Regions from separate parts of the Homo sapiens genome. Here all the other regions are linked to region 2. The links come from fine-mapping of genetic effects on gene expression. A gene starts in region 2. Each other region holds a variant in brackets. All regions are shown on one strand. Distances are from middle to middle.

The links.
Region 1: its variant is fine-mapped to the expression of PSMC5 in breast (GTEx, PIP above 0.99).
Region 3: its variant is fine-mapped to the expression of PSMC5 in whole blood (TOPMed, PIP above 0.99).

Annotation. Positions count from the first base shown.
Region 1 is chr17:63,458,398-63,467,823 of GRCh38, reverse strand. No RefSeq gene overlaps it. Among named protein-coding and RNA genes, the nearest start is that of ACE, 14 kb to the left of the region's middle. RefSeq lists an enhancer at 6,913-6,982. The variant T/G (reference allele first, on the strand shown) is at 4,860.
Region 2 is chr17:63,824,938-63,832,741 of GRCh38, reverse strand. It overlaps PSMC5 (proteasome 26S subunit, ATPase 5), which reads right to left and starts at 5,311. Exons shown (of 12, transcript NM_002805.6): 1 at 5,228-5,311; 2 at 4,533-4,604; 3 at 3,179-3,248; 4 at 2,793-2,890; 5 at 2,553-2,609; 6 at 2,241-2,471; 7 at 1,807-1,933; 8 at 1,516-1,706; 9 at 1,317-1,415; 10 at 1,126-1,236; 11 at 932-1,018; 12 at 723-826. The coding sequence starts at 5,251. The coding sequence ends at 773. It overlaps FTSJ3 (FtsJ RNA 2'-O-methyltransferase 3), which reads left to right and starts at 5,079. Exons shown (of 21, transcript NM_017647.4): 1 at 5,079-5,690; 2 at 5,814-5,906; 3 at 6,070-6,175; 4 at 6,438-6,484; 5 at 6,607-6,686; 6 at 7,107-7,206; 7 at 7,306-7,500; 8 at 7,579-7,694. The coding sequence starts at 5,840. It overlaps SMARCD2 (SWI/SNF related BAF chromatin remodeling complex subunit D2), which reads left to right. Exons shown (of 13, transcript NM_001098426.2): 13 at 1-661. RefSeq lists enhancers at 4,921-4,970, 5,351-5,630, 4,767-5,966.
Region 3 is chr17:63,648,365-63,659,274 of GRCh38, reverse strand. It overlaps MAP3K3 (mitogen-activated protein kinase kinase kinase 3), which reads right to left. Exons shown (of 16, transcript NM_002401.5): 4 at 6,619-6,718; 5 at 1,368-1,481. Among named protein-coding and RNA genes, the nearest start is that of MAP3K3, 31 kb to the right of the region's middle. RefSeq lists an enhancer at 3,861-3,910. The variant TA/A (reference allele first, on the strand shown) is at 4,238.

The DNA of each region.
Region 1 (9,426 bases), 370 kb after region 2:
ATTCAAGATGAGATTTGAATGGGGCCATGGCCAAACCATATCAGAGTCCTTGAAGGTGCTTATGAGGGTCTGATGACTGTTTTCCAGACCTCAAAATATCTAACAAATCATACATTTACCAGAGGCGTGTCTACCCAGGGTAAAAACAGCAACATAGCCTATGCTTTCAGCTGTCAAGAGAGCAGCTCAGGTTGATAGCCCCAGTTCTCTCCATCCACATCACAGGCCCCCGGCTGCTTCTGTTAACTCTGCAGTATTTCCTGAGCCCCCTTGCCGCCAGGCATGTGCACGTCGGGGCTTGGGCCATGACCCAGCCAGGGTCCAGCTCCCATAGAGCCATATTCTGCACACGCATCTGGGTGGCAACAGACAACAAATAAATGTGAATCCGGGATGATGCTGCTTCGTGGAAGAGTACACCAGGCGAGGGGGTCAGGGAGAGGAGGGAGAAGGGTGCACAGATGGGCTGTTTGTTCTAAGGGTGGTCGGTGGGAAGCAAGGCCCCCGGGGAAGCATGGAGGACCCCCGCAGATCTCTGGGACTGGGATTTTCAGGCCAGGCACCGGCACCCGTTGCAGTGCCTGGGCCTTTGAGAGCCCTGTAGGAGTTAGTGCAGTGGTCACACTGTCGCTGCAGTAGAAACCTTGGTTGTTAGGGCGTTGGAGACAGGCTTTCATTTTTTAAAATGCCTTATTATTATTATTATTATTTTGAGATGGAGTCTTGCTCTGTCGCCCAGCCTGGAGTGCAGTGGCGCAATCTCGTCTCGCTGCAACCTCCGCCTCCTGGGTTCAGGCGATTCTCGTGCCTCACCCTCCGGAGTAGCTGGGACTACAGGCGTGCACCACCACGCCCGGCTAATTTTTGTATTGGCATCTCAGGTGATGCGCCCTCCTCGGCCTCCCAAAGTGCTGGGATTACAGGCGTGAGCCACCACACCCAGTCTAAACCTCTTTTTATAAATTACCCTGTCTAAGGTGGTTCTTCATAGCAGTGAGAAAACAGACTAATACACATCATAACCGAACGGTCCACTAGACAGTGCTAGTCTAGAGTCTAAACAAACCATTCTCACCTCCAAGACGGGGGTCTCCCCATGTTGGCCAGGCTGGTCTTGAACTCCTGATCTCTAGTAATCCACCCACCTTGGCCTCCCAAAGTGCTGGGATTACAGGTGTGAGCCACCAAACCCGGCCTTGCCTTCTTATTATGTAGCATATATACATAAACATGATATCTAATAAAATATATATGTAAGTTATGGAGCATAATACGAAGCGAGCACCCATAAACCCACCAGCCATCACCCTTGCCTCCAGCTTCATCCTTCTCTTCCCACCCCCATGCTCCTCATCTACTCCCCTGAATGCTGGTTTTTTCGTGTCTTTTCTTTTGGTTTTGTTTTGTTTTTTGAGATGGAGTCTCACTGTGTCGCCCAGGCTGGAGTGAAGTGGCACGATCTCAACTCACTGCAACCTCTGCCTCCCAGGTTCAAGCAATTTTCCCTGCCTCAGCCTCTGGAGTAGCTGGAATTACAGGTGCCTGCCACCATGCCTGGCTAATTTTTGTATTATTGTTATTATTATTATACATTTTTTGAGACGGAGTCTCGCTCTGTCGCCCAGGCTGGAGTGCAGTGGCGCGATCTTGGCTCACTGCAAGCTCTGCCTCCTGGGTTCATGCCATTCTCCTGACTCAGCCTCCCAAGTAGCTGGGAGTACAGGTGCCCGCCACCATGCCAGGCTAATTTTTCGTGTTTTTAGTAGAGATGGTTTTCACCGTGTTAGCCAGATGGTCTCAATCTCCTGACCTTGTGATCTGCCCACCTCAGCCTCCCAAAGTGCTGGGATTACAGGCATGAGCCACCGCACCCAGCCTAATTTTTGTATTTTTTAGTAGAGACCGGGTTTCGCCATGTTGGTGAGGCTGGTTTCAAACTCCCAACCTCAGGTGATCCACCACCTCAGCTTCCCAAAGTGCGGAGATTACAGGTGTGAGCCATCGTGTCTGGCCCTGAATGCTGTTATTATTCCCTTAAAAAAGTTTCAGTACTGGCCAGGCCTGGTAGATCACTCCTGTAATCCCAGCACTTTGGGAGGCCGAGGCAGGTGGATCACCTGAGGTCGGGAGTTCAAGACCAGCTTGACCAACATGGAGAAACCCCGTCTCTACTAAAAATACAAAATTAGCCAGGTATGGTGGTTCATGCCTGTAATTCCAGCTACTCAGGAGGCTGAGGCAGGAGAATCGCTTGAAACCTGGGAGGCGGAGGCTGCGGTGAGCCGAGATCACACCATTGCACTCCAGCCTGGGCAATAAGAGCAAAACTCCGTCTCAAAAAAAAAAAAAAAAAAAAGTTTCAGTACTTTATATGTATCTCTAAACATCATACTAATGAATTTTTCTTGTTGTAGAGCTTTATAATAACAATACCACCTGCGTTTGAATTCAAGGGAAATGAAAACACATCAGTGCAAAGACCTACACCCAAGGCAGCATCCTTCAAACTTGCGGAGAAGTGGAAGCCACTCAAATGTCATCAGCTGGTGAATGGATGAACAAAATGTGGCATATCGACATAGGTGGTTATTTGGCAATACAAAGGAATAAGGCTCTAATATATCCCACAACAAAGGGTGAAACCCCCAAAACAGGGTGCTAAGTGAAAGAAGCCAGACCCAAAAGACTACATATTGTAAGATTCCATGTATAGGAAATGTCTAGAAAAGTCAACTCTATAGAGACGGAAGTAGATGAGTGATTGCCTGGGGCTGGGGGTAAGAAGAAGGAGAAGTAACTGAAAATAGGGTTGAGGTTTATTTTTGGGGCGATAGAAACTTCTTTCTCTCAATTATGTTTCTGAGACTTTTTTTGTCGTTGCATAGAGCTGTAGTTCATTTATTTTCACAATTCTATAGTTTGTCACGTGATTATGTCACAATTTATTTCTCTGATCTCCTGTCAATGGACATTTGAGTTACTTTTTGTTTTTTGCTATTACAAAATGATTTGCCAGGAACATTTTGTACATGTCCCCTTGGTATACATAAGCAATTTTATATCTGTTGAATCTAATAGCAAGATATCAGGGCTTGTAAATTGTATGCCTTTTTTTCATTCCATTTTTTAGTGGTTCATTTTTATTGTATTTTACAAGAAGGATTATTCCCCAAACAAACTGGAAATTAACACAGAAACAAGACAGGTCCTCCACCACAGTTTGAGAGAAGTACTGCTGTAGGGAATACACTGGGAGTAAAGTCACTGGGCCAAGGCTGTGCAGGTGTTCAAAGGTATGCAAAAGTTCAAGGGTATCCAGATGTCAAATTGCTTTCAAAATAGTTGCACTGATTTGCACTCCCACCAACAGTGGATAAGAGTTCCCACATTGCTCCATAGCTTCACCAACACTTACTACTGTCCAATTTTTTAATTTTTGCCAATTTGAGGGGCATGACATTTTCATTACCTTGTTGCTGATGAGGTTAAATATCTTTGCATATGTTTACAGGACATGTGTGCTTTCTCCTCTGTGATATTCCTGTTTGTGTTCTTTGCCCATTTCTTTTCTTTTCCATACTGATTCTTAAGAGTTCTTTATATATTCTTGATATTAATCCTTTGTCATTTAAATGTGTTACAGATATCATTTCCAGTCTGTGACTTGCATGAATTTCTTTGGTGGTGGTGGGGGGGTGTCTTTTGATAAACAGGAGGTCTTACTTTGAATGCAGTTGGATTCTATCTCTTTTTTCTTTTTTGGCCAGCTCCTCTTCACTCATGCTGTTTTCCTGGGCAAAGCTCCCGCACGGCCCTCATCAAACCGACAAGCCTTTTTTAATCTGCACCCTGCTGCTTCCAGCCTCCTCTCAGTCCCACTTTATACTCAGTAGTTTATTCCAGAGCTGATGTTTTCACCTCTGAGTCTCTCTGCTGCAAAGACCCTCTTTTGTCTGCTTGTAGAACCCCCAAGTCATTCCTCAAACCCCACTCTGGCACAACCTCTGCTTCTCAGAAGCTCTTCCAGACCCCCAAGGCTGAGTCACTTCTTCTATTCAGTGAACCCCAAGCTGAGCATCGGATGATTGATAGTATATAGGTTTTTCATTACTCAAATGGGACAATTAGGCTGGGCGCGATGGCTCATGCCTGTAATCCCAGCACTTTGGGAAGCCGAGGCAAGTGGATCACTTGAGGTCAGGAATTCAATACTAGCCTGGCCAACTTGGCAAAACCCCATCTTTACTAAAAGTACAAAAATTAGCTGGGTGTGGTGGCGGGCTCCTGTAATCTCAGCTACTCGGGAGGCTGAGGCAGGAGAATCACTTGAACCCAGGAGACGGAGGTTGCAGTAAGCGGAGATCATGCCACTGCACTCCAGCCTGGGTGACAGAGCAAGACTCCCTCTCAAAAAATAAATAAATAAATAAAATAAAATAAAATAAAGATAAAATGGGATAATCACTACTTTTAATAAGTGAAATTTATTTAAAGTTAATTTTAAATTTCAAAAAATGAGATTCTTTAAGAATGGGATGCTTGGAAGGGGAAAACAATCGGGAAACGCTGCTCTCTGGCCAGTAATGTCTCTGGTATCCTCGACATCATCCTGTCCACATCCGAACGTTTTCAAGGACAGAAGCTCACTACTTCTGTGGGCTGAGCCACTGTGGTTGTTAGAAATTGCTTTGTTATGCTAAATGTGTCTCCTGCCTCTTCTTTAGGTTTATTGTTTTTCTTTTTCTTTTTTTTCTCTTTTTTTTTTTGAGACAGAGTCTCGCTGTGTCGGCCAGGCTGGAGTGCAGTGGTGCAATCTCAGCTTACTGCAACCTCCGCCTCCTGGGTTCAAGCAATTCTCC[T/G]GTCTCAGCCTCCCAAGTACCTGGGATTATAGGCATGCGCCACCAAGCCTGGCTAATTTTTATATTTTTAGTAGAGACGGGGTTTCACTATGTTGGCCAGGCTGGTCTTGAACTCCTGACCTCAGGTGATCCACCCACCTCGGCCTCCCAAAGTGCTGGGATTACAGGCATGAGCCACTGCCCCAGGCCAGGCTTATTATTACAGGCATGAGCCACCGCCCCAGGCCAGGCTTATTGTTTTTCACTGTGCTTTCTAGAGAAACAATGAGTCTTTTCTCTTTGACATGGCCACTGTCCAAGATGAGAGGTAGCAACCCCATGTCTTTTTTTTTTTTTTTTGAGACGGAGTCTCACTCTGTCACCCGGGCTGGAGTGCAGTGGCGCAATCTCGGCTCACTGTAAGCTCTGCCTCCCAGGTTCACACCATTCTCCTGCCTCAGCCTCCAGAGTAGCTGGGACTACAGGCGCCCGCCACCACGCCCGGCTAATTTTTTGTATTTTTACTGGAGATGAGGTTTTACTGTGTTAGCCAGGATGGTCTTGATCTCCTGACCTGGTGATCTGCCCGCCTTGGCCTCCCAAAGTGCTGGGATTATAGGCATGAGCCACCACACCCGGCCACAACCATGTCTAAGCATGTCTCCTTTTCTCCAGGAGAAACACAGTGCCTTCAGTGATTCCCGGGGAGAGAAGTTCTCTGTATCCTGATGCTCTGTCATCTTCTCATGGATGGACTGCAGATTTTCCACATCTCTCCTAAACTATGCTGCCTGTATTTAAGTAAAGCCTGTGGGCTGGCCTAACATGCGCAGAGGGAGCCCTGGTCCACTTAATGCAATTCCTTCCCTTGGTGCAGCCGAAGAGGGCTGAGGTTGTTCTGGCAGCCTCCTCACCTGCTGCAGCTCATATAGAAACTGAGAGTCAGGCCGGGCGCGGTGGCTCACGCCTGTAATCCCAGCACTTTGGGAGGCCGAGGCTGGCAGATCACGAGGTCAGGAGATCGAGACCATCCTGGCTAACACGGTGAAACCCTGTCTCTACTAAAAATACAAAAATTAGCCGGGCGTAGTGGCGGGCGCCTGTAGTCCTAGTCCCAGCTACTCGAGAGGCTGAGGCAAGAGAATGGCGTGAACCCAGGAGGCGGAGCTTGCAGTGAGCGGAGATGGAGCCACTGCACTCCAGCCTGGGCGACAGAGCGAGACTCCGTCTCAAAAAAAGAGAAAAGAAACTGAGAGTCAGTGCAAACCCTCAGATCTTTTCCGTATGAAAGATGGCCAGTTTGTCGATGTGCATCTGACTTCTCTCTTTTAAATGCTGACTGTCAAGTTCAATCTTAATTTCTTTTGACTCACTCAGCAATCCCATCTTAACTCTCACGTCTCATTTTAGCTCTTCCCCTCAGTTTTCGGTCAAGCACAAACTTACTAAGCAAGATGTTGTTTTGTTTTGTTTTGTTTTTTTTTTGAGATGGAGTCTAGCTTTGTCACCAGGCTGGAGTGCAGTGGTGCGATCTCAGCTCATTGCAACCTCCACCTCCCGGGTTCAAGCGATTCTCGTGCCTCAGCCTCCCAAGTAGCTGGGATTACATGTGCCCATCACCATGCCTGGCTAATTTTTGTATTTTTAGTAGAGATGGGGTTTCACCATGTTGACCAGGTTGGTCTTGAACTCCGAACCTCCAGTGATCTGCCTGCCTCAGCCTCCCAAAGTGCTGGGATTACAGGTGTAAGCCACTGTGCCCGGCTGTTAGGTGTATTTCACCACAGTAAAAAACAATAAATTACAAAAAATGGTGACATGCCAGGGACAATGCAGTGTGGCAACTCATCTGGCCCTGTCTCCAGTGTACCCTGCTATAGGATGTCAGGCCCAGAATCCCAGGAAGCAGGGGAGGAGAGGGAGGTACCTCTTCATTTCAGGCCCAGGATACAGCCCAGCTCTGCCGTGGCTGCGGACAGTGACAATCTATCTCTGCCTCCCAGGCCAGGAACATGTGAGTAAGCTTTGACTCATATCTGTCTTTTCTCCTATTGCCTAATCTTGCCTGGTCTTAATTAAAAATGTCTCCTTCCCTTTCTTACACTCACTCATTCCTCCGCAGGTTTTCACCGAGACCTACAAAGAGCAGTCACCGACCGTGCCCAGACACCTTGGTGAGCAGGGACAGCCTGGTCGCACTGTTATAGGAAAGGGGTCCCGATCCAGACCCCAAGAGAGGGATCTTGGATCTTGCTCAAGAAAGAATTCAGGGCGAGTCTGCGGTGCAAAGGAAAAGCAAGTTTATTTAGAAAGTCAAGTGGTGAAAGAACAGCTACTCCATAGACAGAATAGGGCATTCCCAAAAGTAAGAGGAGGAATGCATCCACCCTAGGTACAGTGCTTGTATATATATAGGATAAAAAAAGATCATGGGGAGATGTGCTCTGCTACAGGGTTTGTGATAAAGGATTCTTTTTTAAAATTACCAAATTTTGCAAGAATCAATATTATTATCTTTGAAGCAAAATTAGGAATGCCTTTGTTCTCGAGATATCGGGATATCTGGACACTCCGAAGTTTGGGTTTGTTAGTAAACATTATTAATCCATTTCCTTAACTGTAAACATCTAGAGGCTGGGAATAGCCTTCTGGGAATGCAAGTCCCAACTTCATTTTCCTAGCCCTCACTCAAGATGGAGTCGCTCTGGTTCAAATGCCTGTGATACCACCTCTCCAGGCTCCCGGGATGTTTAAACAAGCCACTCCCAGAGAGGCGATATGAAAGGTGCAGGGCAGGCCCTGAGCCCTGGCCACAGGCGATGCTTAAGCTGAGCCCTGAAAGGAGGAGTAGGAGTTCAGCAGGCAAGTTGTTAGAAGACTCGCATTTCAAGCAGAAGGTCTGGAAAGACGTGCTGACTGATCGGCAGGAGGCTGTGAGCTGTGGATGATACGGAGACTGCAGAAGCTGAGGCCATGGAGCTAAGGCGGGCTCAGACTTCCTCCTGAGGGCAACAGGTTTTTAGCTGGGGAGGACCATGACCAAATCTGCCTTTCCCAGTCACCTCTCTGATCTCTTTGATGCAGTGTAGATCTGTGCTTAGCAAACTCAGAAGGCCCTGTCACCACCAGGAAGGAAGAGACCCCACGACTGAGGGCAGTGGTAGGTTTAGGGGCTGGCTGCAGGTGGGACCGAAAGGGATAGCTGTGGACTGGCTGGCTTTGGGGGGGGGGTGAAGAGTGGAGGGGGTGATGATGCCTTCTATGGGGAGGGGGACATGCTAGAAACAGTTTTGGGGGAGGTGGGAAGGAGGGTAAGCAGATGAAGGATTTGGGTCTTGGACATGCTGCTAGTTTGGCTTTGACGGTGCAGGTCCTCTGCTATGATGTGAGTGGCTGTGCCCGCCAGTTCCTCTTCTCACTCCCTTCTAGGGCTATGAGATTTGTGACCCTTTCCTCTGCCTGCCTCTGCCCCTGCCCATTGGGACCCTGCTGGACCAGGCATCCATCCTATGGAAATCTCCATGAAGCGTCGACCTCCCTGCCCCCCAGGCATTGGGTGAGTGGCAAGTGAGAGCTGCTCACAGGGCATCAAAGGGGTTCAAAATAGCACCCAAGGCCGGGCATGATGGCTCACGCCTGTAATCCCAGTACTTTGGGAGGCTGAGGTAGGCGGATCACCTGAGGTCAGGAGCTCAAGGCCAGCCTGGCCAACATGGAGAAACCCCGTCTCTACTAAAAATACAAAAATTAGCTGGGTGTGGTGGTGTGTGCCTGTAATCCCAGCTACTTGGAGGCTGAGGCAGGAGAATAACTTGAACCCGGGAGGCAAAAGTTGCAGTGAGCAAGATTGCACCATTGCACTCGAGCCTGGGGAAAAAGAGCAAGACTCCATCTCAAAAAAAAAAAAAAAAAATTGCACCTAAGCCCAAGCCCAGAAGGTGGCCCCGAACCTGGGCCTTCCTTTGAAGCCAGGCCTGGTATTTGCCAAGATCGTGCCTCCTGCCCCCACATCACCAACGTTAACTGCCCTCCATTAGCTGGTGCTGCCTGGGTGCTGCGTGGGCGCTGGCGTGTGAAATGGCAACATGAGGCCGTGTCTACTGAGCCAGGCATCTTAGTGCTTTACACAGAGAAGTGAAACCTCCTAGCAACCCTGTGAGTTAGGTACCATTTGATTCCCATTTTTCAGATAAGGAAACCAAGGCACAAAGTGGTTGGTAGGTGGACTAAGGTCACCCAACAAATGGAGGCAAAACGGGACACGTGTCCCCACCAGGAGCCACCAGCTGTCCCTCCTTCTCCATCCCACAGACTGCGTGAAGCCCTGGGCTACTCTGGCTGGATGGTATCAAGTGTCACATTCTGTGGAGCCAGGATGTTCCTCCAATCCTTTAATCCCAAATCTTTTATTGTGTTTGTTTTGTTTTGTTTTGACAGAGTCTTGCTCTGTCGTCCAGGCTGGAGTGCTGTGGTGCAATCTCAGCTCACTGCAACCTCTGCCTCCTGGGTTCAAGTGATTCTCCTGCCTCATCCTCCCTAGTAGCTGGGACTACAGGTGCGCACCACCAAGCCCGGCTAATTTTTGTAT
Region 2 (7,804 bases):
TTTAATTGGGTTCAGCAGATGCCTCCTCTGCCCCCCTGCAGGCAGGCCCAAGTAGGACTGCTGGAGGCTGTGCTTTGACATTGTAAGACATTTCCGAACCAAAGGCTGCTGGGTTTGCATGTTTACAGACTCCCCCTGGGGCGAGGGTCAGAGCTGGCTCTGGGGAGCTGGGCTAGGAAGAGGAGGTGCAGCCCAGACTCTTCCTAGCCTTTCTAAACCAAAGTTCTTTGCCATTCCTACAAGCCCAGCCTTGCTGCTGGTTTTTTCCTTTCCTTTGGGTATTTGCACTATTTTGGGAGCAAGTTTTCTATGTGGGAGCCACTTTTTTTGTACAGGGGTAAGTTGGGGGTTTTCAGGGAGCCTGTTAGGTGCCTCCTTCTTTTCTTTCCTCAATCTATGCAAGCGGCTCTGGCCGCCATCATCTCCTGGGATGCCAGAGGGCTGCCTCTCCAGCGGCTTGGGCCGGGGAGGGGACACTCCAGTTCTCTAGCATGGCCTGAGGTATGGGGTATGTGCATGTGGAGGCCAGGGTAAGGTGAATGGGGAGGCTGGGAGGACTGGTGTTGCCCTTTGGAGCTTGGTGAGGAGGGTGGGCCTAGGGCTTGGCGAGTGCCACATCTGGCAGGTTTGGAAATTTCCAAATAAATCCTTTTGTCTATTGGTGGTGCCTGGACCTGGTCCTTGAACAGCACAGCCCTCATTAACAGACTGGAGTCCTAGAGGACTTGGCCCACAGAGCTTTATTGGAGAGATACACACAAAGGCTGTCCACTCACTTCCATAATTTCTTGATGGACATGTTTTTCTCACTGTCCTTCTGCATGACCTAGGGGTGGGAGAGAGAATGAACATTAAGTTACGAACACACACATGCCCTAGCCCACTGCCCCAGAGCCACCACTGGCAAAGGCACAAAGATGGAGGCCTATACCTTGGCTACTGCCATCTCAAAGTCCTCCTGAGTGACATGGACTCGCCGTTCTCGCAGGGCATACATGCCAGCTTCTGTGCACACGCCCTGAACAGGAAAAGGAAATTGAGGCCCCACTGCTGTGCCCCTCATCTGTGGCCCTTGAGCCCAGAGCTTCCTGCCTCTGCCCTGTTTTCAGTGGGTACTCCAATTACCTTCACTTCAGCCCCTGATGCTCCTGGCATGAGCTCAGCAATTTTTCTCAGGTTGATCCCCCGGGTCAGGTTCATCTTCCGAGAATGAATCTTCAAAATGTCCAGCCGGGCCTGGAGATGGCAAGGAAAAGCCTGAGCCCCACACCCCACCCCCACAGCCAGAGCCACTTTGCACAGTGTCCATCACAAACCTCCTCATTGGGGGGTGGGAATTCAATTTTTCTGTCAATGCGCCCTGGGCGAAGCAGTGCCGAGTCCAGGATATCAATCCTATTAGTAGCCATGATAACCTGAGCAGAGAAAGCAAGTGGGGATCAGCTAAACCTCTTCCTCAGCCTGCGTGGCACCCAGGCCTTCCCTGGGCCCATCCCAAGGATGCTACCACCTTACCTTGATGTTCTTGGTGGCCTCAAAGCCGTCGAGCTGGTTGAGCAACTCCAGCATCGTGCGCTGCACTTCACTGTCCCCTCCAGAACCCCCCTCCAGCCGCGAGGAGCCGATGGAGTCGATTTCGTCCATGAAGATGATAGATGGAGCATGTTCCCGTGCCATGACAAACAGCTCCCTCACCATTCTTGCCCCTGTGTGGAGGCCGAGCTGGTGTTAGGGAGCTTATTAGCTTATTAGCTCTCTAACCCCCTACCCCTACCTCTTGCTTCTCACATTGCTAGCCATGGTTACCTTCCCCTATGAATTTCTGTACCAGTTCAGAGCCAGAGACACGAATAAAGGTACAGTCCGTATGATGAGCCACAGCCCGGGCCAACAGTGTCTTCCCAGTGCCTGGAGGTCCATACAGCAGCACTCCCTACAGGGGAACAGCAGGACTCAGGGCAGAAAGCTACACCCCTCATTTCATTCAGTGAACATTTACCGAGTGCTGGGTCCCTTGCTAGATGTTAGGGATACAAAAAAAAAAAAGGAACATCAAGGTCCCTTCTATCCAAACCACCTCACCGCCCTAGGAACACTTCCCCAGCCACTCTTTTCAGGGGGAGGGCCAGCCCAAGCAAGATGCAGCCTATCCCGGTGCCTCCCCAACCCCTGCAGTAGGGCTGGCTGGGGCAGGAGGAGTAAGTACAGCTTGGCCCTCTCAGAGAAGCCCTGCTCCTCACCTTGGGCTGAGCAATGCCCAGTGCTTCGAAGAGCTCAGGATGCTTAACAGGCAGCTCGATCACTTCTTTGATCTCCTTGATCTGTTTGTCCAGTCCACCAATCATCTCATAAGTTGAATCTGGTACTTTCTCCACCATCATCAGTGACACTAATGGGTCTACCTTGTTGGGCAGGATCTTGTGCAGAGTGTAGCTGTCATTCCTTAGAGCCACCCGGCAATTGGGTGTCACCTGGGTGAAGGGGGCGAGTTTCAGAAGTGGTACAGTAAGAGCTGACCCCACCACCACCACCACCTCACCTGCTACACTCACATCATTGATGTCAATGTTTTTGTCCACGTCTACAACAAATTTACCTTCAGGATGTACCTAAAGAAACAAGGGCTCATGACCTTCCTTGACAGCCACCAAATCACTAATCCTACCCAGGAAGACCTATGAGAATCCCACAATACCTTGACAGAACACAGAACCCTGTCTCCCGAGGCTACACACAAAGGGGTGGGAATGCAGTGGAGACCGAGCTGGTCCCTGGGGTCATGCTGCTTTTACCTTGACCAACACTTTCTTCTTATCCATGGCCCGGACTACTTCCCCCACATAGGAGCCCTGCTCCTGCAGCAGCTGTAGCTCCTCCCGCAATAGGCGAACTAGATGGCAAACAGACACAGTGGTCACCTAGCTACTCCTTTGGAGTCTCCAGGACCCAATTCTACGTGCATGAGCTAAGCATCACTCTTATTAAAGGAAGGCCAAAGGTCAAAATTCATGTATTTAAGGAGGCTACAATAGGGCTCAGGAAAAAGAGATGCATGTGAAACTACTAGATGATGACAGGGAGAAAACAGTAAGCACTGCTGTGAAGACACAGTGCAGGGAGATAAGGACAGACCTCAGACAAACTGCCCACATGCGGCTTCCCATCTTTCTCCACTCACCTTTAGCATTTAGTTCGTTCCTCTGTGCCTGCAGCCTCCGGAGGTTTTGGCTCTTATCATTCACAATCAGCTGTGGCAGACAAGAGACAAATTCCATTATTCAAGGGCAGGAGACAGGAGGAGGTAGGATCTTGGCCAAGACCTCACAGGTCTGAATGAGCTGAGGGAAGGGCACAGGGCACCTGCATGTTGTTTCAGATTCTCCAGTATGATCCTAATGACCCTGCCCTGTCCTTCAAGAGTCCCTCTGGACCTTACAGCAGCCATCAAAGAAGGCTGCTTGTCCAATACTGGTCCAGGAGTAACAGAATCTAATGGAGAAAAGTTACAGCTGGCTCATGTAACACCAAATTTCTTGCAGGAAGGCAACAACACCTGGTGGAAAGATTGTTAGGTGAGAAACCTGAGTTCTAGCCCAGCCGCTGTCAATCAAAAGCAAAGTAAAGGTAAGACAATCTATTTTTAAAAATCTAGATCTGTTACCAAACGGCACATGGGTATAGCATCAGCTACCCTGCTTCAAGACTACTAAGGTGAACGAATAAAAACACATGAAAAAGCATTCAAAAATGGTAAACTAAACATAATACCTGCAAATGCACTTGGAATTCAGAATTGTCTTTTGTGGCTTTCCCCCATCCAATTTATATTACAGTTGACACTTGAACAACGCAGGGGGTTAGGGTGAAATTGAAAATCCATGGACCTGTCCAAAGTTAAACTACTAACAGCCTACCGTAACAGTATAACGTAACACTAACAGACTACTGTTTATGTTGTCTGTAAGGCTTACTACTGGAAGCCATACCTTACTGCTGGAAGCCTTACTGGTAACACAAACATTTGATTAACAACATAAACGGTCCTTTTTCTATGGTTTAGCGCTTTAGGCTAGGGCTCTGGGTTGCCCAATTTCTTTCATTCAGTCTCTATGGAATTAGCATTGTCCAGATCCCTCAATGATGCCCTTCCTCACATTCTCACTTCACCCTCACCCAACCTCTTGGTGATAAATTTCAACTCCTGAGCTTATGTTTCCCTTTTATAAGAATCCTTTTCATTCGGGCTTCTTCCAAAAGGGTTGACCTTTGGCTAGAGGTACCTTTACTATTAAGATTTGACTCGAAGATGTGTAACAAACTGTGAACACTAAGACCCTCAAAGAGATGGGACTGGAGGAGAACAAGAGATTGCTTACTTCTGATACATACACCCTACTAGCTAAGAAACAAACAAGAAAGGAGAAGCAGCAGCTTCTTCCACTGCACTCCCAAAGGAATTAGATGGATTTGTGGAAGTCCGTTTCCATCCCCCATCATCACCCTTCCTAGCTCCCTCTGGAGTCCGTCCTCACCTGGAGTTCTTCAATCTTGGACAGATAATATTGGCGGAGTCCGCTGCCTGCCTTCCCCTCCTCCAGCTCCATCTGAAGACACAGAGTGAGTCTTAAACGACAGGTTAAACATCCGAGGGGGTAAAGCCACTTGCAGGGCACTTTGAATAAGGCTTGACACCAGGTAGCTTTGCGTAGTAGAAAAAGTTTGGACTTCGGAGGCTCAGGATCTGGGTTCTAATCCCTCCCTCCCTTGGAACCCTCCATTTTCCCAGGACTAAAATAAAAGAATGGGAACGCCGCCTACCTCATACGACTTTTAGGAGGACCGAGAGGCGATATGATATAGACGGGGGGCGCTTTGCACTGCGTGAAGTGCTCTACAAGCCCGAGGTGTCAGTACTGACGAAGGAGCCAGCGGAACGGAGCCAAAGGACTGGCGTCCCGTCTCCTGCGACCCGTGGGCCGGCCATTCCCGCGCCCATCGCTTCCCTCACTCACTCCGCTTCTACCGCGTCTTCCTCTCCCAGCCTTGCCCTGACTCACCGAGGGCGGCGCTGACACAGCAGATCCGGTCGCAGGCAGCGTCCAGCATGGACTGGTCCAGGCACCTCCGACCCACCCGACGCTCCTGCCCCGGCCCGCTCTCCACTCAGATCACGCTCGCTCCGCACCCAGCCCCGTAACCTGCCGGGCCGCCACTGCACCCGCCATACCTGCTCTGGTCCGTCAAGCGCCATCTTCTCTCTTCAGCAGAGACCGCCGGCATCCGAGCCGTCTTGGCGCGCAAGCGCGGAAGCGGAGGATTGGGACCTGAAGACCAGGCAGAGAAGAATTCCGGGTCAATGGGCGGGGTGTGCGGCGAGACCACACTAAGGGAACCATGATGGGAGGGGCGGCTACTCGAGTTCAGGGGCTTTGGAAGGGGATGAGGAAGGAGTAGAACTCCTCCTCAGTGTTGCCTCATTGAAACTCTGTTTATAGTTCTTGTGATATGCCTTCCTAGTCTCAACTTTCAACTTACAAAACCCAAGGACAGAGTATTGAGAACAATCTAGGGCCACACTCAAAATGGCGGAAAACCTCGAGCCAGGGACGCAGGGGACGCAAGCGGAAGCGGAAGTAGTTAGCTGCATACTTGTGCGGTTCCAAGTGTGGAGAAAGCGGCTCTGGGTCTAGGTAGTGTGCGGAGAGGGGCGCGGGGTGGAATTGCTGCGGGAAGTGGGAAACTGGAAGTGGGAAACTGGAAGTGGAATCTGGTGCTCCGGAAAGAGACGTTCCCAACTTCTACTTTCTCCCCAGATTGAGGGATACTCCCCCTTTCCACCATGGGCAAGAAGGGCAAAGTTGGCAAGAGCCGACGAGACAAGTTTTATCACTTGGCGAAGGAGACGGGTGAGTCCGGATTCGCTCAGTCTGCGAGCGAGCGAGCGATCTCTGCCCGGTTCGCCTGCTCTTTGCGACCATTATGTACCTCTCCTGCAGAAGGGGTGGTCGGTTGCGAGGCCGGAGAAATCCTACTAGTGAAGCAGTTTGCGCACTTGGTTGTTTTGTCCAGGTTACCGTTCCCGATCTGCTTTCAAGCTGATCCAGCTCAATCGCCGCTTTCAGTTCCTGCAGAAAGCCCGAGCCTTGCTGGACCTGTGTGCTGCGCCAGGGGGATGGTTCGTAACACTCGCCACAGGTTGCTCCTGGTGGCCGCTTTCTGGGTTCTGAGCTGGGATGGCTTCCAGTTTCACTGCGGGAGGGGAACCCGAATCCCGGTCCTCTTGGGGGCCGTTTCCTTTCTTGATTGCAGAGAAAGGGCTTGGAATACGTGCCTATGATATGCTTTGGCCAGTACACGTAACACCAGGGATGAGAGATCAGTTGCCAAGAGGGGGAAAAGGATGGCTCTAGGTTTTTAAATTTCTGTTCCTTTTATAGGCTGCAGGTAGCTGCCAAGTTTATGCCTGTATCCAGCCTTATTGTGGGTGAGTAACGGACAGCTCTCCTTGGTGTTTTAAGGGGTGGGTGTATAAGGTATTTTGTCCTGTATTTCTCTCCTCCCTGCTTGAAGCAACCTTTTAGAATACTCTGACCTGATTTCTTCCAGGAGTGGACCTGGTTCCAATCAAGCCTCTCCCCAATGTGGTGACTCTCCAGCAGGACATCACAACAGAACGTTGTAGGCAGGTAATAGGAGTCTCTCTCTTCCTTCCCCCTTTATACGGAAACATCTACATCCCTGAAATCCTCTAAAGGCAAGTTTTTCCTTTTTACCGTGCTTTGAGCACGTTCTTGCCTGACATCTGTACGACAAGACCTATGGCATTCGTAGTGTCCACTCCAGGCTTTATTTAGAGTCAGGGATAAAGGTGTTTGGAATTGGGAGAAGGGCAGAGATCTTTAGTGAAGTCTTCTCCTGTGAATTCAGTGTCAGACTGTAATCTCCATGAAGGTAGAGACATACTGTTTTTGTTTACTATTGTATCTCCTGTGCCTGGTACTGCATTTGGCCCATGATGGGCACTCAGCAAATGACTAGATGGACAAATGGCTGAACCAGGGCCATTCCAGTGTTTCTGTTTCCATAGTTCCTTTTCTTCTCTTTAGGCCCTGAGGAAGGAGCTGAAGACCTGGAAGGTTGATGTTGTGCTCAATGATGGGGCCCCCAACGTTGGGGCTAGCTGGGTCCATGATGCTTACTCACAAGGTACAGGGAGTGTGGTGCTTGGAGATCAGGTGATGGTGGAGGTGGGCGCATGCCCTCCTGGGCTGCAGAGTGCGTCAACTAATTGTCTCTATCCTACAGCCCATTTGACACTGATGGCTCTACGTTTGGCTTGTGACTTTTTGGCCCGTGGTGGCAGCTTCATCACAAAGGTTTTCCGTTCTCGTGACTATCAGCCTCTGCTATGGATCTTTCAGCAGCTGTTCCGCCGTGTCCAGGCCACCAAGCCCCAAGCCTCTCGCCATGAATCTGCAGAGATCTTTGTAGTCTGCCAAGGTGGGCATCATTTCCTTTCTCTTGATCCAGGCTCCCAACTCCCAAAGCACACTTTTTAATATATCCTGTCATTTTTAGGATTCCTGGCCCCTGACAAGGTTGACAGTAAATTCTTTGACCCCAAATTTGCCTTTAAGGAGGTTGAAGTTCAGGCTAAGACCGTTACTGAATTGGTTACTAAGAAGAAGCCAAAGGTGTGTTTTGGGGAATGGGGTCACTCTTGGGTCCTGGAACTCTAGGGAGGTTGGGCCTGGTGGGTCCTACAGGTACCTTAGAAGGGCCTGACCAAGCTTCTCTCTTTTCC
Region 3 (10,910 bases), 180 kb after region 2:
ACAGTAGCAAAAATGGTTATTTAATTAAATTATGGTATATCGACTCAAGAGAAACATGTATCCTTACAAATTATAATTACAACATAGAAAAATGTTCACCACAGGCTGGGTGTAGTGGCTCACACTTGTAATCCCAGCACTTTGCAAGGCTAAAGTGGGTGGATCATTTGAGCTCAGGAATTCAAGACCAGCCTGGGCAACACAGTGAGACCCCATCTCTACTAAAAAAATTAAAAAATGGCCGGGCACAGTGGCTCACGCCTGTAATCCCAACACTTTGGGAGTCCGAGGCGGGTGGATCACCTGAGGTCAGGAATTTGAGACCAGCCTGACGAACATGGTGAAACCTTGTCTCTACTAAAAAATACAAAAATTAGCCAGGCATGGTGGCGGGCACCTATAATCCCAGCTACTCGAGAGGCTGAAGCAGGAGAATCATTTGAAGCCAGGAGGCGGAGGCTGCAGTGAGCTAAGATCACACCATTGCATTCCAGCCTGGGCAACAAGAGCAAAACTCTGTCTCAAAAAAAAAAAAAAAAAGAAAAGAAATGGTCAGCATGAGCAGCATTCCACCTAAACTTTGTCCTAGTCACTACACCCACACTTATGCTGCCATGTTGGCTGTCCACATAAAGAAAAGGAAAGCCTGTCAAGCATAAGAAAAGGAAATGGTGCCAAGAAACCTTCAGAAACATGCATCTGAAGAAAACTGGTAGAAGAATCAGTAATTGGAAGACAGATACAGATTGCAAGCATTCTTGTGAAATGCGGGCCTCCAGGAATCCTTCAGGAGAGGAAACTGTGCATAAGGGATAATTCCCCACTTCTGACACCCTACAGACTGCCTGCCATTGGGTAAAGCAACAGCTGATAAGTTATAAGAGGCCCCCAACCCATGGCTTTTTCCACTGAACAAAAGGAAAAGTTTGTTTCCTACAAGTGTTCCAAGGGAAAGGCAAGGTGTTGTGGGAGTTGGGTTTATAAAGCATGACAGTCTCAAATCTTTGACAGTCTTTCCTAATCGGCACTGCCAAACGAATCAAATTTCTCTTGTTGGGGTCAAAATCTAATTGAAAAAACATAAATTTAGAGCACAAGAATTTTATTCTTTATCATAAAGTATTTTCCTTCCTCCCTCACCAAAAGTCAAATAACCTTTAGATGCAATGTTAACACTGACAATCTGGCTTTTCGGTGAAATCAAATGCAGAATGTTCACTGGCCACTGACAAGTGGGCTGTGCTGTGCTTATGCTCTCAATTTGGCAGTGGCTGAGGAACGAAAATGTCTGTCAAGGAGGCGAGACAAGTTCCTGAAGGAAAGCAAGCTTTGTCTTCAGCTGCCAGACCATGACAAGGGCTACTTACATGGTTTCTGTCCTGGGACAACAGCAATATCCTAAGGCTTTTCATGCTTGAGCTTCTATCTAAAATGTCAATTGCTTTATCAAGATCATCTTGGTTTTTCAGCAGGATGGAGAGCTGTGATACAAGACATAGAAAAGGAAAATAATATAAAACAGAAGTTTATCTCAATGTTTCACTTTGCAGAAATAAAATAAACAAAAAATAAAAATACATTTGGAGGAAAACAATCTCACTGGATACTATGGGGTCTTAAGAGATCTAGTTGAAACCATACAGATTTTTTTCTCTAAATGTACAATCCAAAAATTTGTAGTACCTTTACATAGTTGTGCAACCATCATCATAATCCAATTTTAAAACATTTCCAGAACTCCAACAGGATCTCTTGTGCCCATTTATAGTCACTCCTCCTTCCCACCTCCAGCCCCAGGCAACCACTACTCTACTTTCTATCTCTATTGATTTGCCTTTTCTGGACATTTCATTCCATTTAGACTCATACAATTCATACATATTCAATTCAATTCATAAAGATTCAATCTTTTTCATCTAGCTTCTTTCACTTAATGTTTTTTAGTTCATCCATGCTGTAGCATACCTCAGTACCCAGTTGTGAGATACTTTCTGAGAAGAGCTGCCTCTCCAAAAACACTAATTTACTTCAAAATATCAAGTTGCAAACAGTTACAGCCCCCATATTCTTTTCCAAATTAAGTAGGATCATGTCCCACTCTACTGCCAATTGTGCTGACATTAATAGAACAAGCAGAAAAGGAAGAGAAGGGGTGGAGGGATGGTCAGAGGATGAAAATTGTTATACAAATAAAAACACAAATTTAGACTGCATAGCACGGTTTAATTATCTTTCTGTTTAAGGGCAAAGTCAGTGACTAGAACCTGAAAACTACCTCCTCCATTCTCACGGAGCTTTTCCCCCTTTGCTTGGCACTTCTCTCTCCTGTCGCCATATGAAGGATGTGTTTGCTTTCCCTTCCGTCATGATTGTAAGTTTCCTGAGGCCTCCCCAGCCATGCTGAACTGTGAGTCAATTAAACCTCTTTCCTTTATAAATTACCCAGTCTTGGGCAGTTTTTTACAGCAGCGTGAGAACAGACTAATACACTCATACGTTCCAGTGAAATATTAAATAGAAGGTCCCTGAGGGTACAAATAAGTCTCACTCACTGCAAAAAGCAGAGCATGTTATGAATACTTGGTATTAAGAGATTCATAAGATGCAAACGTATGCCTTGCTTAGGACCTAGCAAATGTCAGATCTTATTCTTATTCTTCTTATTTTTTGGAGACAGAGTCTTACTCTGTCGCCCAGGCTGGAGTGCAGTGGCACAATCACAACTTGCTGCAATGTCCACCTCCTGGGTTCAAGTGATTCTCCTGCCTTAGCCTCCAGAGTAGCCGGGATTACAGGTGCACACCACCACTCCCCACTAATTTTTTTTTTTTTTTAGTAGAGACTGGGTTTTGCCATATTGGTCAGGTTGGTCTTGAACTCCTGACCTCAAGTAATCTGCCCACCTCAGCCTACCAAACTGGTGGGATTACAGGAGTGAGCCACCACGCCTGGTCAGATTTTATACACGTATGGTAAACACAAAATCAAGCAAAAGTCCAATTAACTTACACAGTTCCCAATTTATAATACAAGATTTTTTTTTTTGAGACAGCATCTCCCTCTGTTGCCCAGGCTGGAGTGCAGTGGCACAATCTCGGCTCACAGCAACCTCCGCCTCCTGGGCTAAAGTGATCCTCCTGCCTCAGCCTCTCAAGTAGCTGGGATTACAGGCATGAGGCACCACACCCGACTAATTTTTGTACTTTTTGTAGAGATGGGGTTTCACCATGTTGTCCAGGCTGGTCTTGAACTCCTGAGCTCAAGAGATCTGCCTGCCTCAGCCTCCCAAAGTGCTGGCATTACAGGCATGAACCATCGCGCCTCGCCAAAAACAGTACATATTTAAAATAAAATCTCAAAACTACTTATGGAATGGGAGAATGTTCTGCAAATCATATTATATTGCAAAAGAATTTCTTCCTGTGTGACATTCAAAGTGGGAATAAATAAGAATGGTTGGGAAGGGAGTTAAATAAAAAAAACCAAGTAGGCTGGGGATAGTGGCTCACACCTGTAATCCTAGGAGGCTGTGGCGGGAGGCTCACTTGAGGCCAGGAGTTTAAGACCAGCCTGGGCAAAATAGTGAGACCCCCATCTCTACAAAAATTTATTTTTAATTAGCTCAGTGTGGTGGCATGTGCTTATTGTCCCAGTTACTGGGGAAACTGAGGTGGGGGGATCACTTGAACCCAGGATGTCAAGGCTGCAGTGAGCCATGATTGCACACTGCACTCTGGCCTGCGCAACAAAGTGAAACCCTGTCTCAAACCAAAAACAAAAACAAAACTCACAGTGACATATCACTTTACACCTACTAGGATGGCTATTAAAAGAAGAAAATAACAAATGTTGGTAAGGATGGTGGAGAAACTGCAGCCCTCACTGATATGGTTTGGCTGTGTCCCCATCCAAATCCCATATTGATTTGTAGTTCCAATAATCCCCATGTGTTGTGGCAGGGACCCAGTGGGAGGTAACTGAATCACGGGGGTGGTTATCCCATGCTGCTGTTCTCCTGATAGTGAGTGAGTTCTCACGAGATCTGATGGTTTTATAGGAGGCTTTTTCTCATTTGCTTGGCCCTTCTCTCTCCTGTCGCCATGTGAAGGATGTGTTTGCTTTCCCTTCCATCATGATTGTTAAGTTTGCTAGGCCTCCCCAGCCATGCTGAACTGTGAGTCAATTAAACCTCTTTCCTTTATTTGTTTATTTAAAAATAAAATAAAATAATTTTTTT[TA/A]ATCGTTTTTTGAGACAGAGTCTCAACTCTGTCTCAAATGAGCTGCAATCTCGGCTCATTGCAACCTCCGCCTCTCGGGTTCAAGTAATTCTTCTGCCTCAGGCTCCTGAGTAGCTGGGACTACAGGTGTGCACCACCATGCCCAGCTAATTTTTATATCAGCAGCAGAGACGGCGTTTCACCATGTTGGCCAGGCTGGTCTCGAACTCCTGACCTCGTGATCTGCCCGCCTCAGCCTCCCAAAGTGCTGGGATTAACAGGCGTGAGTCACTGCACCTAGCCACCTATTTCTTTTATAAATTACCCAGTCTCGGGCAGTTTTTTACAGCAGAGTGAGAATAGACTAATACACTCATAAGTTGCTAGTGGGACTGTAAAATTGTGCAACCATTATAGAAAATCTGGGCAGTTCCTCAAAAAGTTAGAGTTATCTTATGACCCAGCAATTCCACGCCTAGGTATATACCTTACAGAATTGAAAACATATGTTCATTTAAACACTTGTAAACAAATGCTCATAGCAGCACTATTTAATCACCAAAAAATGAAAACAACCCAAATGTCTATCAATAGATGAACAGATACACAAAATGTGGTATATCCATAAATGGAATATTTATTATTCAGCCATAAAATAGAATGACATACTGACAACATGCACAGATGACCGTTGAAAACATACGCTTAGTCAAAGAAGCCAGACAAAAAAGGTCACGTACTGTATGATTGCACTACACGAAATGTTCAGAATAGGTAAATCCAAAGAGACAGAAAGATAAGTGCTTACCAAGAGCTGAGAAGAGGAGAGAAAGGGGAATAACTGCTAATAGGTACAGGTTTCTCTTTGGAGTGATAAAAATGTTCTGGAGGCCAAGTGCGGTGGCTCATGCCTGTAATCCCAGCACTTTGGGAGGCTGAGGCAGGCAGATCGCTTGAGCTCAGGAATTTGAGACCAGCCTGGGCAACATGGTGAAACCCTGCCTCCATAAAAAATACAAAAAAATTAGCTGGGTGTGATGGTGTGTGCCTGTAGTCCCAGCTACTTGGGTGGCTGAGGTGGGGGAATCGCTTGAGCGCAGGAGGTCAAGGCTGCAGTGAGCCGTGTTTGCACCACTGCACTCCAGCATGGGCGACAGAGCAAGACTCTGTCTCAGAAAAAAAAAGAAAATGTTCTGGAATTAGATAGCGGTGTTGGTTGCACAACTCTATCAGCATACTAAAAACCACTGAATGGTATACTTTTAGATGATAAATTTTTTAATCTCAATAAAACTATAATTACAAAGAGATAAATAAATAAAATCTCAGTAGATTTTTCATTTGGGATTCTTAGATCTTGACAGTGCAGGGTTTAAAGGGCAAACAAAAGAACGGAATTGAGGGATTTTAAATTAATCAAATGTAAGTTAGTCAACTCCTGATCATTAACATTAGTAGAGTATGTTAAGACATGTATGAACTAAAATAATAACAATGATTTATATTTGGCTTTAGAATAAAGAAACATCAGGAATTCTTAATGGAAATATTAACTGAAAAAGAAAAGAGTACTAAATGATTCAGAAAAGTCTTTACTAAAAGAAAAATTTTAACTCCTCATCAAATAAAATAAAACTACACAGTGATGATCTGGTTCTCAAAGGGTCATGATGTTGCCCAGCTTTCTTGTCTTGCACCCCTAACTCAATTTCCTCGAGGTACACATTCTTTACTCAGCATAAATACACTGCAAAGCACCAGCCTAAGCTGATTGTAGTCTGTAATATTCTTCTTGGAGCTGGGAAAGCAGCCCAGAAACTGACATTCAAAAGAATTCCTTCCTGGGTGATATTCAAAGTAGAAGTAAATAAGGACCGTTGGGGTGGAGTGAGGAGGAGGAGGAGTTAAAGAACTTATTGGAGCAGGTGCTAACATTTGAAACAAATAAGCTCCAATCAGAAGAAACTCTAAGAGAAGAATCCTGCATTTATGACTGTAATAGATGACCTACTCACTGGTTTTTCACACCTCCCTAGCCCCTGCTAAACCCTCTGCTTCTTGTTAAGGCTGTGCTGGGGGGAAAAAAATAAGATACTCCTACAAAATGTAAAGGAGACAGTATAAGCCCTAGCCCTGGTACCATACCTGATTCCACCATGGAATATTAGAGCTATCTGCACTGAATGAGTAGGGGGAATGGAGATGGCTGAGATGGCTGAGTAATCTCCCATGTAGTAAAAAACAGAGATCCCACAGTTGTTGGAATTAAGAAAAGGGGGTCTAGAAAATGAAAACCTGCAGATGATATTAGAGGAACAAACTTTAAAGGCTCTGGTAAACAGAGAGAAAAAAGGTAGGCATCTGCCCCTCTTGTCCCTGCCCCATCCATCTGCCTTCTCACCTCATTGTTCATGTAATGTAGATCAAGAGGTTGTCCAAATACTGTTGTCACCTTGTGCTCCACATCTTCATATTTCACAGGCCGGCTGAACGCTATAATTCTGAAAAGAAACAGAAAGAAAGGTTGGTTAATTGTATACTTAAAACGTAGGGTTTAAAAAGCAATGGTCTGAGTATATTCTTCCTTTCTTCTCAACATAGGATTCTGTTTTCTTTCACTCAATTTGCCTTTTCCCGATTGTTTCCTTTTTTCCTCTTCTCTACCGTTACCTTTCACCCTCTGAGCATCTATCAGGTTTGACAACAGTACCCACAACTATTGCTCAATCCCAACCATTCATCTACCACTTCAGCTTAGACTCTTCTGCCAATGACAGAAGAGGCCACTAGATTTAAAAACTATGTTCCAACGATGAGAACACACAGACACATGGAGGGGGAACAATACACACTGGGGCTGTTGGGACTTGGGGAAGAGAGAGTATCAGGAAGAATAGCTAATGCATACTGGGCTTAATATATAGGTGATGGATTAATCTGTGCAGCAAACCACCATGGCACATGTTTAACTATGTAACAAACCTGCACATCCTACACATGTACCCCAGAACTTAAATAAAAGTTGAAAGAAAAAAATTATTTAGGAAATAAGGTAGAAAACGTACAGACTGGAGTAGCAGTCCTGAAAACATGGCCTCAACTCCTAAGGGACTCAACTCTAGGACTTGAAAGGTCTTTTCCATCGTTCATCTTTGAGATGCCATAAGAATCTCCATACTGATTTTCCTCAGAATTAAGATTTTCTACTACAGAGTCACAGGAATTCCCCCTTGAGTTAGTGATATGCCTGATCAGTTTTCTTAACCAGTGACATATCTGTGCATGTAACTAGTATTGACATTGAAGATTTTCTGGAGAGACTCATTAGGTCAGTTCAAAGAACAATTTCTACAAATATAAGGTAGAGTAAGGAGTCATCCAAAGAGGTGTAAAATCTGATTTGTTATTAAATACTTCAGCAAAATTTAAAAGTGGGAATTGATAAAACAAGACTGGGAAAATGTTAGTAATGTTGAAGCTGGGTGACAGGTCCATGGGAGTTCAGTTTAATACTCTGTCTACTTTTGTGTGTGCTTGAAATTTCCATAATAAAAAGTTGTGGGGTTTTTTTGTTTGTTTGTTTCAAAACAGAGTCTCGTTCTGTCACCTAGGCTGGAGTGCAGTGGCAATGATAACGGCTCACTGCAGCTTCAACCTCTGGGGCTCACGCAATCCTCCTGCCTCAGCTTCCCAAGTAGCTGGGACTACTGGCATGCACCGACTAATTTTTTATTTTTTGTAGGGATGGGCCTCAATAAGTTGCCCAGGCTGATCTCAAACCTCTGAACTCTGGCAATCCTCCCACGTCGGCCTTCCAAAGTGCTGGTATTATAGGTGTAAGCCACCATGCTTGGCCAATAAAAAGTTTGAATGAATGTATTAGGTTGAACTATATGAGACTACTGATGGCCGACCATTTTTGATATATAAAAGTGGCAATTTTATATGGGTTCAACCCAATACTCTAGAACAGAAATGACTAAAAATAATCAGAGATAACTGAAGAAAAGAATATAAGAAAGAAACTCATACACACACATACTCTCAAATTTATATAAGAAAATACAGAATTAAAAAAAAATCTTGGGGGCCAAGCACTTTGGGAGGCCAAGGTAGGAGGCTCGCTTGAGGCTAGGAGCTCAAGATCAGCCTGGGCAAGATAGTGAGCCCTCCTGCCTACTAAACATTTTTTTAAAAAATTAGCCAGGTGTGATAGTACATGCTTATAGTCTAAGCTACTTGGGAGGCTGAGGTGGGAGGATCACTTGAGCCCAGGAGATCAGGGCTGTAGTGAGCTGTGATCATGCCACTATACTCCAGCCTAGGCAACAGAATGAGACCCTGTCTAAAAAAAAAAAAAACTCTCTCTCTCTCTCTCTCTCTCTCTCTCTCTCTCTCTATAAGAGACAGAGAGAGAGAAGGTCTTCCTAACCATAACATAAAATACAGAAGACAAGCCAGGCAAGATGGCTCATGCCTGTAATCCCAGCGCTTTGGGAGGCTGCGGTGGGTGGATCACCTGAGGTCCGGAGTTCAAGACTAGCCTGGCCAACATGGGAAAACCCCATCTCTACTAAAAATTTAAAAATTACCTGGGTGTGGTGGCACATGCCCTGCAATCCCAGCTACTTGGGAGGCTGAAGCAGGAGAATCACTTGAACCCAGGAGGCAGAGGTTGCAGTGAGCTGAGATCACACCACTGCACTCCAGCCTGGGCAACAGAGCAAGAGACTCTGTCTCAAAAAAATAAATAAATAAACTTCTGATTGCAAAATAAGCCATCAACAAAGTTAAACAAATATCAAACTTTGAGAAAATACTTGTAAAAAATCAATAAAAGACAATCTAATAGAAAAGGCAAAAGATTAGACAATTCACAGAAGAATTGTAAGTGGCTAATAAAACACATGAAAAGATGCCCAATGTGACTGGAGAAATGCCTATTAAAACAACCTTCATCTCTTAGTACACCTAAGCAGGATAAAATCAGACTAGTGTGTGTTGGAGCAAGCAGTATTCAGCCATGGGCCTGCGCAGTTCTTGTCCTCTTCCATGCTGAGAGGAAGAAGTGTGTGGTTCTTTCTCATCTTCCCTGCTCCCCCAGAGTGGGAAGTGGTGTAACCAGAGGAAGAAGCAATAAGCCACAAGAGAGAGGGATCTAAACCATTGGGTTTTAATAAAATCTGACCAGATAATTTCTTTAATGTTCTTCTGTAACAGGTTGGCTCAAATCAGTGAGAAGCATAAAAGCCTTCATCATCTAGAACTGCATCTGCACTATTCAATATGGCAGCCATTAGCCACATATGACTATTTAAATTTAAATTGATTAAACTGAAAATTGGTTCCTGAACAGGTACAGTGGCTCACACCTATAATCCCAGAACTCTGGAAGGCCAAGGCAGGTGGATAGCTTGAGTCCAGGAGTTTGAAACCAGCCTGGGCAAAATGGCAAACCCTGTCTCTACAAAAATTACCTGGCTATGGCAGTGTGCCTGTTGTCCCAGGCACCTGGGAGGTTGAGGCAGGAGGACTGCTTGAGCCTGGGAGGTGGAGGCTCCACGATCACACCACTGTACTCCAGCCTGAGCAACAGAGATCCTGTCTACTTTTTTTTTTTTTTTTTGAGATGGAGTCTCGCTCTGTCGCCTAGGCTGAAGTGGCACGATCTCGGCTCACTGCAAGCTCCACCTCCCAGGTTCATGCCATTCTCCTGCCTCAGCCTCCCGAGTAGCTGGGACTACAGGTGTGCACCACCACACCCAGCTAATTTTTATATTTTTAGTAGAGACAGGGTTTCACCATGTTGGCCAGGCTGGTCTGGAACTCCTGACCTCAGGTAATCTTCCTGCCTCAGCCTCCCAAAGTGCTGGGATTACAGGCGTGAGCCTCTGTACCTGGCCCAGAGACCCTGTCTTAAAAGAAAAAGGTTCCTCTGTCTCACCAACCACATTTCAAGTGCTCATTAGCCACATGTACAGCAGCCATATGTGTACTGGACAGCACAGATATAGAACATTTCCATTATAGCAGAAAGTTCTACAGGGCAACATTGATAGACTATTAATATAAACCATAATCTATCCTTCACGCAAAGCCTAACATCTCAAGAAGGTAATTCCTTCCTGTTTTTTTCCTTTGTCCATCACCACCTTTCATTTTTGGAAATTATACTGCTAACCAAATTAGTTTCATCTCCACTAGGAAACCCATTGAGACTGTAATTCTTTTTTCTGTGTGTGTGTGATGGAGTCTCGCTCTGTCCCCCAGGCTGGAGTGCAGTGGCTCGAACTCGGCTCACTGCAACTTCCACCTCCCAGGTTCAAGCGATTCTCCTGCCTTAGCCTCCCGAGTAGCTGGGACTACAGACGCCGGCCACCACGCCCGGCTAATTTTTGTATTTTTAGTAGAGACGGGGTTTCACCATATTGGTCTCGAACTCCTGACCTTTTTATCTGCCCGCCTCAGCCTCCCAAAGTGCTGGGATTACAGGCGTGAGCCACCACACCCGGCCCAGACTGTAATTCTTATATTTTTTTCTTCCAAATCAACTGTCCCAAGCAGTGATACTGTTAGGTGCTATCTAGATGGATTCTCTAGATAGAGGTGTTTCTGAAGCCTTTTGAGAGGATAGCTTTCTATTAATGCCTAATAGCAAATCATACCCCTCCTTCTTCAAGGCCTCAGCAACAG